Linked DNA regions of Homo sapiens: region 2 is linked to region 1. The links come from fine-mapping of genetic effects on gene expression. A gene starts in region 1. The other region holds a variant in brackets. All regions are shown on one strand. Distances are from middle to middle. Region 1 holds the start of LINC01936 (long intergenic non-protein coding RNA 1936). Region 2 has its middle 25 kb from the start of LINC01936.

The links. PIP is the estimated chance that this variant, and not a neighbour inherited with it, causes the effect.
Region 2: its variant is fine-mapped to the expression of LINC01936 in tibial artery (GTEx, PIP 0.98).

The regions. Positions count from the first base shown.
Region 1 is chr2:30,344,961-30,347,876 of GRCh38, forward strand. LINC01936 (long intergenic non-protein coding RNA 1936) reads left to right here and starts at 1,686. Exons shown (of 2, transcript NR_122048.1): 1 at 1,686-2,155.
Region 2 is chr2:30,370,414-30,373,329 of GRCh38, forward strand. No RefSeq gene overlaps it. Among named protein-coding and RNA genes, the nearest start is that of LINC01936, 25 kb to the left of the region's middle. The variant C/A (reference allele first, on the strand shown) is at 1,336.

The DNA of each region.
Region 1 (2,916 bases):
CTCTACTAAAAATACAAAAAATTAGCCGGGTGTGGTGGTGGGCGCCTGTGGTCCCAGCTACTCGGGAGGCTGAGGCAGGAGAATGGCGTGAACCCAGGAGGCAGAGGTTGCAGTGAGCCGAGATCGTGCCACTGCACTCCAGCCTGGGCGACACAACAAGACTCCATCTCAAAATAAATAAATAAATAAATAAAATAACAATTTTCATTTAATGACTTTGTTCTTCATTCCCCCTGCTCTTGGGGGAGAATCCTACAAGAGCAAAAAAAAAAAGTATAAAATACGAAAAACGGCTTTTTCCATGTATGTAAATGTGATCAATAAAATACTCTGAAGCATAAGAAAATAATATGTCAGGATAAAAATCTGTGAAGGAAGTAGGAATAGTAATAAGAGTTCCAGGAGATAAAAAGAAAGATGTAAAATTCCTGAATGCCAATCAGCTTTTTCATAAATTTTAAAATGGATGATAGGGGCTACCAAATTGTCGATGTTACATTCCACTGGATCCATTTTAAAGTGTGAAGTCACAGTAGGTTTTAAATATCAATATTTACAATAAGCCAGAAACCACAGTTTTTGCAGCTACTTAACTTTTGAACTTCATTTTTTAAATGTGCTGGGGGTAGACAGTGGATAGCTTTACAAAATTCTGTTAGGGGTACATACATAAACAAGTAAGGCATGGGCCCTACCTGTCTGACGACACTCTCTCTGCTTTTTCCACTTCTCTAAGTTGGCCTCTAAACAGCACCTTCTCAGCACTTGGGTAATAATGACATCAAAAAGCAATGAAGGCCAGGTGCGGTGGCTCCTGTCTGTAATCCCAGCACTTTGGGAAGCTGAGGCAGGTGGATCATTTGAGGTCAGGAGTTCGAGACCAGCCTGGCCAACATGGTGAAACCATGTCTCTACTAAAATTACAAAAAAAATGAGCTGGGAGTGACGCTGCATGCCTGTAATCCCAGCTACTCAGGAAGCTGAGGCATGAGAATCACTTGAACCCCCGGGGAGGCGGAGGTTGCAGTGAGCCAAGATCGCACCACTGCACTCCAGCCTGGGTGACAGAGCAAGACTCTGTCTTAAAAAAAAAAAAAAAAAAAAAAAAGCAAAGAAGAAGTAAGCAACTCCCCCTCCTCCCATATCCTAGGAAGTACAGAGAAAACTATTCTATATGGGTTGAGCCCCTATTATGGGGCAGGTCCTATTTGGGGCATTGAATTCATCTGTCTTTATTGCTCTAATAGGGACACTATCACTCCCATTTTACTGATGAGGAAATGGAGGCTCAGAGGAACACATAAGCTGTTTATGGACTTACAGCTGCTACAGCTTACAGCTGGTAAGCACCAGAGCCAGGATTCAGCCCAGCTCTGGCTTAATCCAAAGCCAGTGCTTCTCCATGATATCATCCATGCTGCCTCCAGAAATCAGAGCAGAATTAGGGGCCACCTTGGTTTTATTTTCTTTCTCTGATAAAAGTGAAGTAGGGCACAAGACCCTGCCCAGTTCTTTTCCTACAGGCCTTTGAACATTCCCCAGCAAAGTGAGAAGGGAAAGCTCAGGGCTACCTCCAGTGCTAGCGCAGAGGGCGGGAGTATCAGCTGGCTGGCTGGAGCTGGCCAAGCCCCTCCTCTCCTCCTCCTGCTTCCCCCTCCATCCAGGCTCCACCGGGAACCTGTCCCAGACGCCTACCCCGCCTGAGCCAGAGGAAGGGAGGAAAACAATAGCAAAAACCAGGACCCTTCGGACTTGCCGCTGAATGGGGATTTTCGTCGGATGTTGAGTTTACCTGGAATGCCCCGGTGTTATTTTGGGAAGGCAGACATCCCACGGAAACAATGAAGTGGAAAAGAAAACAGCTAAAGCAAAATCTAGAGCCCAGTTTTTGCCAAACCAGCCCCACGTGGGCTGGGCAGGCTCTGGAAGCCCAAGTCAGGCCGATGAAGAGCGGCTGAGGCCGTGGGGATCTGGTTTACCAGGAGGGCACATGGAGGATGCAAGAAAAGGAAGAGCCGTATTCAAGTCCCCACTTCAGTGATGAGGCAGAAAGACCCTGCGCCTGACCACGTGGGAACAGCCTGCAGTGAGCGGTGACGCCGCCTGGCTTGAGCTAAGTGCTGGGCTCCACCATTCATTGGCTGAGTGACCTTAGGCAAGTCACTTAACCTCTCAGAGCTTCCTTATCCTCATGTAGAAGATGGAGGTGGGGCGCGGTGGCTCACGCCTGTAATCCCAACACTTTGGGAGGCCGAGGCGGGTGGATCACCTGAGGTCAGGGGTTCAAGACCAGCCTGGGCAACATGGCAAAACCCCATCTCTACAAAAAATACAAAAATTAGCCCGACGTGATGGTGCGTGCCTGCAGTCCCAGCTACTTGGCAGGGCGAGGTGGGAGGATCACTTCAGCCGGGGAGGCAGAGGCTGCAGTGAGGCATGATTGCACCACTGCATTCCAGCCTGGTCAATAGAGCGGGACCCTGTCTCAAAAAAAAAAAAAAAAAAAAAAAAAGGCAGTGGGAGTGGGAGTGATTTGCTTTAAAGGAACAGAGGAAAGATAAAATATATCTCTATATAATTATATACATTATATATAATATATTTACATATTTTATATATATAAATATATATATATATGTCCTTAGATATAGGTGTATATTTTCATATATAATTGATGAGAATTATAGATTATAGAGAGCAGTCATCTGGGAAAAAGTTTACAAACTGCTATCAGGCACTGGAGAGAATTTACTCAGGAGAAAAGGCCTAGGGAAGAAGGAAAGAGATAAAGTCCACTGAGCTAGCAGGGGCTGAAAAGGGAGAAGATCCTTCGAAGCTCCCTGTGCATGGTTTGACTTTGGTTTGCAGCACCAGCTCCTCCCATGCATAATATTACATAGTATTCTGGCTCTCTAT
Region 2 (2,916 bases), 25 kb after region 1:
CTACTTAAAAAAAAATACAAAATTAGCCAGGCGTGGTGGCGCATGCCTGTAATCCCAGCTACTCGGGAGGCTGAGGCAGGAGAATCGCTTGAACCCGGGAGGCGGAGGTTGCAGTGAGCCAAGATCGCTCCATTGTACTGCAGCCCGGGCAACAAGAGCGAAACTCCATCTCAAACAAACAAACAAAACAAACAAACAAACAAACAAACAAATTCAACTTTTATTTTAGATTCAGACTCCATGTGTAGGTTTGTTACATGGGTTTATTGTATGATGCTGAGGTTAGGGGTACAAATGATCTGTCACCCAGGTAGTGAGCACAGTACCCACTAGGTACCCATCACTCCTGTCTCACACCTGCATTGAGGCCTTGGGCCTCAAAAGTCAAGTATTTGGTATCTTTGTTATGTGGTTCCTTTGAGACTACTACCCTTTTTTGCCTGACTGGGAAAAAAAAAAATCACACATCTGTTAACACTTCCAATATCAAAGACTCTGGAAAGTGCTAGTCAAGGGTCAGAGCTAGTCCTAGGTTCTGAAATGCCTTTGACAATAATATGGAATTGCTAGTGTCCAAAAAAAAAAAAACAAACCTCACAAAATCAAATAATCCAAAGGCTCTATAGTAAGTACAAAGCACAAATCCTTCACCTGGACTTGAAGGTCTTCTTCTTCATGGCCCATCCCAACTTTCTTTAGAAACTTCTCAGTTTCTGATAGTTGGAGCACAGAGGGCAACAGGGTGAAAAAAAATGAGGCTGGGGAGGCAATAGAGTACCAGCAATAGGTGGGAGAGTACATTTGGTTTGATGTAGTCAACTGGTTGGTACTCACTTCTTCAATCCTTTCCTGTCTCGAATCCTGAGAGGAGGGTTGGACTTTTTTCATGCCTTCTATAGCATCTGATATGGTTTTCCTGTGTCCCCACCCAAATCTCATCTGGAATTATAGCTCCCATAATTCCCACATGTTGTGGGAGGGACCTAGTGGGAGATCATTGACTCATGGGGGTGGTTTTCCCCATATTGTTCCCTGATAGTGAATAAGTCTCATGAGATCTGATGGTTTTATAAGGGGAAACCCCTTTCATTTGGTACTCATTCTCTCTTCCCTGCCACCAAGGAAGATGTGCCTTTTGCCTTCCACTGTGATTGTGAGGCTTCCCCAGCCACGTGAAACTGTGAGTCCACTAAACCTCTTTTTCTTTATAAATTACCCAGTTTTGGGTATGTCTTTATCAGCAGTGTGAAAACAGACTAATACAGTATCTAGCTTGGGGCTTTGCATAAAGTAAGCACTCAATTAATTCTTGTGTAGTAGTTGACCAAAGATAGG[C/A]GTTAATAAAGGTTTAGGAACCTGGTTCTATGTAGAGATACTTTGAAAATTAAAGCATGCACTTCCAACCACGTGATCTCTAAGTTTATGGCTCTGCAGTTGCTATTTTATAGCTAAAACAAAATACTCATTAAAAACTAATAGGAATGTGTAAAATCAGCACGGGCAAACCTCAACTGGCAGGCAGGAAAATCTGGCTCCTCGAAGCCTGCCTGGGTCCATGGTCCAAACATGCTTTGGGTGGAGATCCAGAGGTGAAAAGTCATTTGCTTCTGGGAACAAGAAACTGAATCAAACCCAAAGTAGCAAGTTTGAGCTCTCAAGGGCAAAATGACATTGCATGCCTCAAATGGCTGTGGGTTGCCAGCTTAAATTATTGCACAAACACATTCACGCAATGGGAGTTGAGAGAGGCAGCCAGTCCTAGCTGGAGTAATTCGGGGAAAGGTGTAGGATGTGAGGCTTGAGCTTGGTTGGGCCACAGCCACGTCAGGGGAAACCAGGGCTTCCCAGAACCCATCCTGTCTGCTCTTCAGATGCCCAATGGCCTCCTGACTCTCCTTCCTTCCAGCCACTCTCTCTCCCACTTCCCCCTGCCTGTGCCCACCACTTAGCTGGCTGCACCTTCTCAACACACTTTCTGTCACCTCCTTACACACACATGGGCCATCTCTAAGCTGAACACTCTCTTCTGTACTAAACAGCTTTGTCAATTCATTTCTCAGCAATTTTTTCTTTTTTTTTTTTTTTGAGATGGAGTCTCACTCTGTCGCCCAGACTGGAGTGGAGTGGTAAGATCTCAGCTCAGTGCAACCTCCACCTCCTGGGATCAAGCGATTCTTCTGCCTCAGCTGTAGCTGGGGTTACAGGCACCCGCCACCATGCCCAGCTAATTTTTGTATTTTTAGTAGAGACAGGGTTTCACCATGTTGGCCAGGATGGTCTCAATCTCTTGACCTCGTGATCTGCCTGACTTGGCCTCCCAAAGTGCTGGGATTACAGGTGTGAGCCACCATACCCAGCTTCTCAGCAATTTAGAAATGCTAACTGAAAATCTTGTTTTCTGATTAAACACCATCCTTAGATATTTTCTCCTTTTACCCCACATCTCTCCAGATCCTTCTCCTGACCCCATCCCATCCATCCTTCCATTGTTTTATTTGGGAGTTGAATGAGTTTTCTAGAAACATGCCATAGAAAGAAATTCCTCAGAGGCAATGCAATAAATTATCTGAGTTATGCATGAGTGATGGAGCCTTTTGGTTGGAGACATAAAGAATGCTGATCATGGAAAAACAAAATTCAAGAGGCCAAATTTTACAGGGAGCAATTAGTATTAAATGAGAACATGTCACAGGCACTGGGGCATTGGAAACTGGCTGCCCCAGCCTCCTTTTTGTAAGCTGAGTTTACTAAATGGAACATAATGATATGTAACCAAAATGCTGAAAGACCATTTCTTTGCTAAGGAGATCCAGCCAACAAACACAGTGGAAAATAGGAAAATAGCAGTGATACTTTTCACCCTGGGAATTTTTTTTTTTTTTTTTTTTTTTTAGATAGAGTCTTGCTCTGTCGCCC